2 separate regions of the Homo sapiens genome follow, and region 2 is linked to region 1. Evidence: fine-mapped expression QTL. A gene starts in region 1. The other region holds a variant in brackets. All regions are shown on one strand. Distances are between the middles of the regions. Region 1 holds the start of SEC24C (SEC24 homolog C, COPII component). Region 2 holds the start of ZSWIM8 (zinc finger SWIM-type containing 8).

Region 1 (5,371 bases):
TGCAACCTTTTTTTTAAGATGGAGTGTTGCCCTGTGTCCCAGGCTGGAGTGCAGTGGTGCAATCTTGGTTCACTGCAACCTCCGTCCCCTGGGTTCAAGCGATTCTCCTTCCTCAGCCTCCTGAGTAGTTGGGATTACAGGCATGTGCCACGACATCCAGCTAATTTTTGTATTTTTAGCAGAGACAGGGTTGGCCAGGCTGCTCTCAAACTCCTGACTTCAGGTGATCCGCCTGTCTCGGCCTCCCAAAGTGCTAGGATTACAGGCATGAGCCACCATGCCCGGCCCTAGTGGGTGCAACCTTAAGCAAGACAGAGGATATTTACTTTCCTATATCGATATGAGTCAAGTGGGATGAATCATGTGAAAATGCTTAGCAGAGGACCAGTTTAGGTCAGGTGCTCAACATATCTTAGTTGAATTTGGCAAATTATTCATCTAGACTAGTGGTTCTCAATCAGCAATGGAATCACCTGGAGGGCCTTAAACCATAGCTTGCTGGGCCCCACCTCCAGAATTTCTGGCTCTTATCTATGTAAAGCGGGTCTGAAATTTGCATTTCAAGCAAGTTTCCAGGTGTTACTGATACTGCTGATCTGAGGATCACACTTAACCACTGACTATAAACTGATAGGTCAGGTGTGGTGGCTTCACACCTGTAATCTCAGCAATTTGGAAGGCTAAGGTGGGAGGAATTTGAGACCACCCTGGGCAACACAGGGAGACCTCACCTCTACAAAAAATTAGCCAGATGTGGGGGCACATACCTGTAGCCCTAGCTACTCAACTACCCAGCTACTCCTACTGAGGTAGGAGGACCACTTGAGCCCAGCCTGAGCAACATAGCAAAATCGTCTCTAAAACAAAACAGGCTGGGCGCAGTGGCTCACACCTGTAATCCCAGCACTTTGGGAGGCCAAGGGGGGCGGATCACAACGTCAGGAGATCAAGACCATCCTGGCCAATATAGTGAAACCCTGTCTATACCAAACATACAAAGATTAGCTGGGGTGGTGGCGCATGCCTGTAATCCCAGCTACTCGGGAGTCTGAGGCATAAGAATCGCTTGAAACCAGGAGGCGGAAGTTGCAGTGAGCCAAGATTGGGCCACTGCACTCCGGCCTGGAGACAGAGCAAGACTGTCACAAAACAAAACAGAGGACAAGAACAATCTGCTTGTTTAGTAAAGCATGCTCAATGCCTAATATATAGTTTCCAGCACAGCCTAAAGTGCAAATTTTTCAGTGAATAAACCACTCTGTGCCTCAGAATAACTGATATTTACTGTCAATAATATGAGAACAAACACTTTTGTTCACTGCTCTATTTCCAGACCCAAGAACATGGCTTGGCACACAATGTCAGCGCTCAGTGGGTTCACCCTGCCTGCTGCCTTGACAAAGCTGATTTATCAAGACCAGGGAATTGCAATGGAGAAAGAGTAATTCACGCAGAGCCAGCTGTGTGGGAGACCAGAGTTTTATTATTACACAAATTAGTCTCCCTGAGCATTTGAGGATCAGAGTTCTTAAAGATAATTTGGCGAGTAGGAGCTTGGGAAGCGGGGAGTGCTGATTGGTCAGGTTGAAGACGGAATCACAGGGAGTCAAAGTGAGGTTTTCTTGCTGTTTTCTGTTCCTGGGTGGAATGGCAGAACTGATTGAGCCAGGTTACTGGTCTAGGTAGTCAGCTGATCCAATGAGTGCAGGGTCTGCAAAACATCTCAAGCACTAATCTTAGGTTTTACAATAGTTATGTTATTCCTAAAAGCAATTTGGGGAGGTTCAGACTCTTGGAGCGAGAGGCTGCATGTCCCCTAAACTGTAATTTGTAATCTTGTAGCTAATTTGTTAGTCCTGTAAAGACAGACTGGTCCCCAGGCAAGAAGGGGGTCTTTTCGGGAAGGGGCTATTATCAATTTTGTTTCAAACCATAAACTGAATTCCTCCCCAAAGTTAGTTCCACCTACACCCAGGAATGAATAAGGACAGCTTAAAGGTTAGAAGCAAGATGGAGTCGGTTAAGTCTGATTTCTTCCACTATCATAATTTCCTCAGTTGTAATTTTGCAAAGGCAGTTTCAACAGCAGTGCTCGAAAAATTATGAAATCAACAAATAGTACTGAAAAGTTCAAATGAAGTCATATATGAAAAAGAAATCCTAGCACTGTTAGCTATAATTACTTAGCCATTAAATGGGGTACTAATAATTACTGCAGGAACTATCTTTTCCAACAGAGCGCAGAGATCTTTTGGCTCTGATAAAGCTCTGCACCTAAACAAAGGCGCTGTATAAAAATGGTTAATAACAATTGACCTTTACTGAGTGCTTACTATGATGCCAAGCGGCCTATGTGGCCTAATTTCATCCTCTGGGCATTATTATTTCCATTTTACAAGCTGTAGAGCCAGACCTCAGACCCCCACATGCAGGTTGACAACAGTTGGTGCCCTTTACCACCACCACACGTTCCGCAAATCTCATAACCAGCAAACGCCATGGGTGAGAGCAACCTAGCGGACGGAAATCAACGGGGTCAGGGGTCACCAGGAAGTGACTACAAGACTCTAGCTCAGAGGTCACTAATACGTCACAGGCAGAGTGAAGGGGCATTATTAAAGATAGTTTGACAAATTCTTTTTAATCTCATTTCTGTTGGTGAGGCCATAAAGTGACTGGAACATCTGAAAAAAAATGTCAGGAGGGAAATACATACGACTCAGCAGAGGCGCACAGGCGGCGGCCATGATGGGAAGATGAAAGAGGCGCATGCGCGGCATCCGGGTCCCCGAAATGCAGACGTGGCAGAAGAAGTGGCCCGGCCCTAAAGCGTGGAGGAGGAACTTCCGGGGGTGACGGGACGGCCCCCTCGGAACCGGAAGTGGAGCCTGGGAGCCTTGACGTTAGGAACGAAGTCTAACCTGGATCTGGAGCCGGGTGAGGAGTGGCATCGGGAGGTTGGCGGGTAGGAAAGCAAAGGAGAGGTCAGGGTATTACTGGCCAGATTGGGGTCCGGTTTCAGAAAGAAGGGAGGAGCCTGGGGGCGGGGCCTGGGTAGAGACCCTCACCTCACGCATCCACCATCCAGGAGCAGGTCCTAGACCATCCCTTCGTCTCCCGGCCCAGATTCCGGCTCCTGCTTCCTGCCCCGAGCCTGTTAAAAGGTGCAAGACGTTTGGTCTCTGTGCTTAACAGAGCAGCCCCCTCTCTTAACGTGGCCCTAGAAGCCGACTTGGCTTCTCGGTTTTGATCCTCGGCTCTCCGAGGCTCCATGGCTTGACTACTTTCAGAGTTCTAGGAAGCTTGCCCCGCCCCCTTGGGTTGTCACCCTCGACTATCCACCCAGAATGGAGTCGAGACTTCAGTCTGACTCCAAGCTCTTGAATGTGTTTGAGGGGATTATTTTCTGGAGAAGAAGCTCCTTTCTTTACCCCTCCCCCCGGCTTTGGAAACATAAAGGGAGAGGACATATTTTAAACTTAGTGTCAGTGACCTACCTCTGTAAGGTTTAGGGTTTGGAAGAACAGCTATTGAGATAACTTTGAGTTTAAAGAGTTTTAGACCAGGATCAGCTCCTTTTCTATAGTCAAGGTGGCCCTTCTAGCAAAGGGGGAGAGGTCCATTGTTCCCTTTGCAGCAACTCTGAGTGCTCCTGCTTTCTGGGCCCCTTCTGTCTACAGGATAATTGGAATGATACAGCTGTTGAAAGTAGATGTGATGAGATAGTTTTCTTGGAAGGACCCTGTTTAGAAAAGGCCCTCTAATTCATCCCTGTGTTGATGAGCAAGATTGTAATAATTTTGATGGTGGCTGAGATTCATAACAATCGTAAGGGGAGCAGAAACAGGAGAGTTGGAGAAGTGCATTGGAATTTAGAATATTCATAGTCTTCTGCTTGAGGGATGAGGTGAATGATTTTTTTCCATGAAATCTAACTCTAACTTTGCCCCTGATTCTTGAACTGTTTCCTCAGATTATGTGAAGAAGTTTTGGTGCCTGTTCTGCACTTGGTTTTAATCTGTTACCTTGCTAGAGTTTTCAGGTGTCCTTTATTTTTTATTTTTTTGAAAGGGCGTCTTGCTCTATTGCTCAGGCTGGAGTGCAGTGGCACGATCTCGGCTTATTGCAATCTCCGCCTCCCGGGTTCAAGCGATTTCTCCTGCCTCAGCCTCCCAAGTAGCTGGGATTACAGGCGTGTGCCACCATGCCCGGCTAGTTTTTGTATTTTTAGTAGAGACTGGGTTTCACCGTGTTGGCCAGGCTGGTCATGAACTCCTGACCTCAAGTGATCTGCCCGACTTGGCCTTCCAAAGTGCTGGGATTACAGGCATGAGCCACTGTGCCTGGCCAACTTTTATTGATTTTAATGCTTCGGTTTTGGCCGGGCGTGGTGGCTCACACCTGTGATCCCAGCACTTTGGGAGGCCAAGGTGGGTGGATCACGAGGTCAGGAGATCGAGACCAGCCTGGCTAACAGGGTGAAAACCTGTCTCTACTAAAAATACAAAAACTAGCTGGGTGTGGTGGCACGCGCCTGTAATCCCAGCTACTCGGGAGGCTGAGGCAGGAGAATCGTTTGAACCCAGGAGGTGAAGGTTGCAGTGAGCCGAGATCGCGCCACTGCACTCCAGCCTGGCAACAGAGTGAGACTCCGTCTCAAAAAAAAAAAAAAAAAAAAAAAACCTTCAGTTTTAAGGTCCATACACTCTTTTGGTGGAAAGACTTGGGTTGGAGTATCATTTGTATTATGGCAGTTTAGCTAAAGAATGTCATTTCTGTAACTCAGCCTAAATTTTGTCATTGAGGGGGAAGGATTTTAGCAGATCTGTTTTAGATTTTTAGCCTGATTGATTTTAAATCAATTGTTCAGCACACTAGAGGGTACTCGATGTTTGCTGAATGAATGGATGCTAGAGTGAATGAATGGAAAGTGGGAACATTGTTTCTTTCACCTGTAACATCAAGGTAGTTCATCAGCCACAAGACTGTGTGACTAGACACTAGAAATCATACCACTGGGGAATGGAGGCTGCTGCTCCATTTCAGTGGATCTGTCTGAAGTTGAAATTTATACTATTTAGACAGTGACAAAGGGTGGATGGTCAGAATAACAAAATCCTTGCTTTTAGGAGATAATCTGAATGCTGGCTGGGGCAGAAAATTACTAAGATCCTGTGGAAGTGTGAGGATTATTAAACTGATCACTGTCTGATAAGGTCAATTTCTTTTTATCTCTACTTCCTGCCCTGAATAGTTGCTCTCTTTAGAAAGTTCATTTTGACTAATTTCTCCTCTCTCTCACAGGTGAGATCAAATTGGGAATGCTTTCATAATGAACGTCAACCAGTCAGTTCCACCTGTGCCACCATTT
Region 2 (5,371 bases), 43 kb after region 1:
GTGATTCCCCTGATACTAGGAAAAATTGCATAGCATTTTATGTATACTCTGCCCTTTCAGGCATAATTCAGTTAGCTTTTTTTTTTTTTTTGAGATGGAGTCTCGCTCTGTCGCCCGCGCTAGTGCAGTGGCACGATCTTGGCTCACTGCAAGCTCCGTTTCCCGGGTTCACGCCATTCTCCTGCCTCAGCCTCCCGAGTAGCTGGGACTACAGGCGCCCACCACCACGCCTGGCTAATTCTTTGCATTTTCAGTAGAGACGGGGTTTCACCGTGTTAGCCAGGATGGTCTCGATCTCCTGACCTCGTGATTTGCCCGCCTCAGCCTCCCAAAGTGCTAGGATTACAGGCGTAAGCCACCGCGCCTGGCCTTAGGAGTTCTTAACCTAGGTCAATAGACTCCAGTTAAGACGTCTGTGAACTTGGGGGATAATTTATATTTTTAACTCCAACTGAAATTTAGCATTTCAGTCAGGGCTATGGAAAACAAACCACAGTAACATTATCAAAACCTATATGAAATCATGGTATTTTCATACCATGTTACAGTTGGTTACAAATATCTCAAAAAGCATTTATACTCATCACTAGCTTCAAAATTATGATAGTTACTACGCTTCCTCCTAGATCTTGTCATTTAATGTGTAAATAAAGGAGCACTATTACGTTACAGATTTGTTCTATTAATAGTTTAATAATTGTATTTAAACAACTGGTTTCCTTTGTAATTCTTGGTATTTTGTGCATTTGTAAACGATCTGAGAAGGGGGTCCAGAAACCTACCTAGACTGCTAAAGGGTCCATGGCACAAAAAAAGGTTGAGTTACTAGATCCAAAGGCCGTATGGACAAACAGTACAACCATTTCCTGAAATCAAATGCATTCTTTTCTGATGTTTCCCCAGTTAGACCCTATAAAAAGGTCGGCTGGATTGCAGACTTCTGGACTACGATTCCCAGAAGGTGGTGCGGCCCTGGGGCCTATCCAGAGTTAAGACAATAACTCCATCCAATAGTTGCTGTCCTCTCCTGACAGCCTACAATTCCCAACATGCATGGCGGCTGTTTATGCCTTGGGGACATTATGGACTCCGAGTTGTTGCTGGGATCTGTAGTTGCTTCGTATAACGTTGGGAGTTGGCTTCCTCTTATGATGTCTGAGGGTGGGCTCGAGGGAAAAAAAGCAAATGCAGCCATTAAATAAAAATGTCCCCTACATCCGCCCGTACCCGATCCGGATCCCGAGCGCGCGAGGGCGGAAGTGGTGGTGGCCCGCGCGGCCGGAAGTCCAGATCAGCTGATGGGGGAGGCGGCTCCGCAGCCGCCTAGAGGCCCCAGCCGCCGAGCGCTTCGTCCCGGCCCTAAGTCTCGGAGACTGGCCAAGATCACCGCTTGCACCGCGCTGTTGGGCGAGGCCCGGTCCCGTCTCTTTCCCAGGCCTGAGATTCTCGCCCGGCACGGCCGCCCTGAGCGCCCCGGCCACCCCCAGCCCCGGCTCGCCCCTCAGGCCCCGGGCCTCCCCTCAACCCCCGGCCGGCGGCCCAGGCCCCGGATCCGCGGGGGGGGACCCGGCCCCGGGGGGTGCGGGCCCCATGGAGCTGATGTTTGCAGAGTGGGAGGACGGAGAGCGCTTCTCATTCGAGGATTCGGACCGTTTTGAGGAGGATTCACTCTGTTCCTTCATCTCCGAGGCCGAGAGCCTCTGCCAGAACTGGCGGGGATGGCGCAAACAGTCAGCGGGGCCCAATTCCCCCACTGGCGGCGGTGGCGGAGGTGGCAGTGGCGGTACCAGAATGCGAGGTGAGAGTGAGCTGGGGGGAAGAGGAGCGGCAGGCCCTGCTTGGGCCTCGCTCGGGAGCTGTCCGGGACCAGGAGCTGTCCCCGACCAAGAGCTCTCTTCAACCAGGGGAAGAAAGGGGAGCTGTCCCCGGCCGGGAGCTGTCCCCGACTGGGAGCTGTCCCAAGCTTAGAACAGACTTCAGAACTCGCTTTTCCGGCCTTCCTGGGGTGGGCTGGCTTCTCCACACCTGTGTGTGTGTGGGTGTGTGTGTGTGTGTGTGCGCGCGCGCGCGTGCGCGCGCTGTGACAGGGAGATCCTGTGGACAGAAAGTAAATCTTTCGTCACTCCTTTGCCTTAGAGAGGGGATAAGGGAGAAGAATCTTGTCTTTGACTTGGGAATACTTAAGTGAGTTCAGTCTGAGGCATACCGGAAAGTAGAGGAAGAGAATGTGGGTAGGGGGCTGATTGTGAAGAAGTGACCACTTGTGGCTTGTCACCGCATTGCAAAGTGCATTGGGAGCTTCTTGCTTCGGGGTGATGATCTCTGATCCCAGAAGCACCAAGAAGGGATCCTACCCAGAGGAAAATAGAGGTGAACTGGCCTGCCAGAGAGTCCATAGTTCATAGGTTTAGATCATAGACTTTGCTTCTGGCCATGTCAAATATCTGTCAGAAGCCAAGGCTGGGACTTGCCTGCTGTGCCTTCCTCATGGCACAGTTTTTGTCCTGGTCCTCAGTGGAAGCTGGCTTTTTTCAGCAGTTGAGATGTTTAATTTGTGTGATTCTACTCAGGCCTTTCCAAGAGTCCTGTTTTCCAAACTGGCTTGTGGAGATTTCTGGTGCTCCTTTGGGACAGAGAGAAATTTACATATATCACTTTTTTTTTTTTTTTTTGAGACGGAGTTTTGCTCTTGTTGCCCAGGCTGGAGTGCAATGGCACGATCTCGGCTCACCGCAACCTCCGCCTCCCCAGTTCAAGCGATTCTCCTGCCTCAGCCTCCTGAGTAGCTGGGATTACAGGCATGTGTCACCATGCCCGGCTAATTTTTGTATTTTTAGTGGAGACCGGGTTTCTCCATGTTGGTCAGGCTGGTCTTGAACTCCCGACCTTAGGTGATCTGCGCGCCTCGGCCTCCCGAAGTGCTGGGATTACAGGCGTGAGCCACCGCTCCCGGCATATATATCACTTTTTAGGAGTGGCGGACTGGTGGCATTCAGCTTCAGTTGGAGAGAGGATATGGCCTGTGTACACACACACAAACACACACAGATCATAGGCAGTTTTACCGTGGGTCTTCTGTGGCCTTCTGGCTTCTTTCATATTTGAGTATGTGGGTGGTCTTGGGGCTTAGTGCTCCCTCACTTTGAGGGAAGTAACTGAAGTCATAG[C/T]GATGAAGATTGTTAACATATTGGTATCTTCCTGGTCAGGTTAAAATCTGGGAAAACATGCCATATTACCCCAGTCCCCCGACTTCAGTCACTGACTTGTAAAATAAAGGGGTTGGCCAGGTGCGGTGGCTCGTGCCTGTAATCCCAGTACTTTGGGAGGCCGAGTCGGGTGGATCACTTGTGGTCAGGAGTTTGAGACCAGCTTGGCCAACATGGTGAAACCCCATCTCTACTAAAAATACAAAAGATTCGCTGGGTGTGTTGGCACCCGCTTGTAATCTCAGCTACTTGGGAGGCTGAGGTGGGAGGTAAGTTTGAACCCAGGAGGGAGAGGTTGTGGTGAGCCAAGATGGCACCATTGCACTCCAGCCTGGGTGACAGAGTGAGACTTCATCTCAAAATAAATAAATAAAAATCAAAAAAATAAAATAAAGGGGTTAACTCTTCTAAAAAGGTTCTTTTTAATTCTATGATTTTCTGATCTATTAATGTGACTAGCAATTTTGTGAGATGTAGTTTGTCATGTTATCACTACTTTTTGGTTAAAACACTGTGGAAAACCTTGAGTGGTAACTTTATCTTAGTCCAGGTGATTCCAGTTGCAGCAGTAGCTAGGTGCCCTGCGATAACTCTCTCCCCTTGAGGGTTTCCAGTGTGGGAAGTTGTCATTTAGGCGCGCCAAAAGTGGTCTGGCCTCTCGTGCTTCTTGAGATCCCTTCCGGGCTCTGGTCTATCTTGTCTCCTTAGCTGGGGGCCTACAGTCATCTAGAGTAAAAGGGATGGTTAAAAAAAAAAAAAAAAGGCAATCGGAGACAAGAATGCCAGAGGAGAGACATTAACCATGTAATTTGAATTTAAAATGCTCATGGAATATGGGAAATTCAGTGCTGAGCCATGTGAGCAGGGTTACTTGCTAGGGTCCTGGAACGCACCTGTCTGGCCAGGAGTTTCTTAAGATATCTCTGGTATCTTCTGTTCTAGACCTTAGGTGTAGCCGGCTGTGGGCTGGGGATTATCCAGCTCCCCTTTCCCATATGGAGCCTTAAGGGTTAGTGTATCCTGATAGGGGGATCCCTAGGACTTTCATCCAGGTCTCTTCTTTCTTTCATAGTGAAGATGAGGCCCAGGATGTTGTACTGGCATGAGTGCCAAGAGACCATGGCCCTTTTCATTTCCTATTCTCTTTCCCCTGATCCCAACCATTGTTTGCAAAGATGGACTGGTGATCCCATTGGTGGAGCTGTCAGCAAAGCAGGTGGCATTTCATATCCCATTTGAAGTGGTGGAGAAAGTTTACCCACCAGTGCCTGAGCAGCTACAGCTCCGAATTGCTTTTTGGAGCTTCCCTGAGAATGAAGAGGACATTCGGTGAGGCCAAAGGACTGATGGTGGGGAGCGGGGTCCTGATACTCCACACTGTCTGCTGGGTTTCCCATAGAACAAAGGAGACATTGTATTTGGGGCAGTGGTAAGAGGAAGACAAGGGAGGGATTGCCTGGGATTCCACTCCCTCCCCCCCACCCCCCGCCCTGGGGAAGGAATGAGGCTAGGGAGAGAGTGCCTAGGGCATTGTGGTCTCTGACAGGGTCTGCCAAAGGTTATTTGCTGAGTTGTGGCTGTGTCCTCTTCTTCACCCCCAGGCTGTATTCGTGCCTGGCCAATGGCAGTGCGGATGAGTTTCAGCGAGGGGATCAGCTCTTCCGCATGCGGGCTGTGAAGGACCCATTGCAGATAGGTGAGTGGGCCATCATGCCATGTGGCACATCCTGCTCCTCCCATCCCCTGGCTTATGAAGTAAGAACACACCGCAAGAAGCTGGAGCATGTTGTCTGAATAACTGCAGGGCCAGGGTCAAGGGCAGAGACCCAGGTCCTGACAGCACTCCCTGACCATGCCCCCATTTCTCCCCAGGGTTCCACCTGAGTGCTACAGTGGTGCCACCTCAGATGGTCCCTCCTAAAGGGGCCTACAACGTGGCTGTGATGTTTGACCGCTGCCGGGTCACTTCCTGCAGCTGTACCTGTGGGGCTGGGGCCAAATGGTGCACCCACGTCGTGGCACTCTGTCTCTTCCGCATCCACAACGTGAGGCCCTCCCAATTTATCCCGGCCCTATCCTACACTCCATCCCCCCCTTCTCTGCTGCATGCCTGGCTACAATGTGAGCCCCCTCGCCTCGCCTACTCTGCCTCTCTGTCCCCCAGC

Evidence for each region. PIP is the estimated chance that this variant, and not a neighbour inherited with it, causes the effect. A credible set is the group of variants that fine-mapping cannot tell apart.
Region 2: its variant is the best candidate, but not a certain one, in a credible set for the expression of SEC24C in whole blood (TOPMed, PIP 0.69).

Annotation. Positions count from the first base shown.
Region 1 is chr10:73,741,501-73,746,871 of GRCh38, forward strand. It overlaps SEC24C (SEC24 homolog C, COPII component), which reads left to right and starts at 2,872. Exons shown (of 23, transcript NM_198597.3): 1 at 2,872-2,937; 2 at 5,305-5,371. The coding sequence starts at 5,333. It overlaps LOC124902453 (a long non-coding RNA gene), which reads right to left and starts at 2,765. Exons shown (of 2, transcript XR_007062195.1): 1 at 2,717-2,765; 2 at 1,464-1,711. RefSeq lists enhancers at 1-548, 2,214-3,413, 2,253-2,820, 2,491-2,920, 2,821-3,387.
Region 2 is chr10:73,784,289-73,789,659 of GRCh38, forward strand. It overlaps ZSWIM8 (zinc finger SWIM-type containing 8), which reads left to right and starts at 1,318. Exons shown (of 26, transcript NM_001367799.1): 1 at 1,318-1,798; 2 at 4,382-4,535; 3 at 4,808-4,902; 4 at 5,079-5,251. The coding sequence starts at 1,591. RefSeq lists enhancers at 1,078-1,297, 4,270-5,371 and a silencer at 1,418-1,637. The variant C/T (reference allele first, on the strand shown) is at 3,168.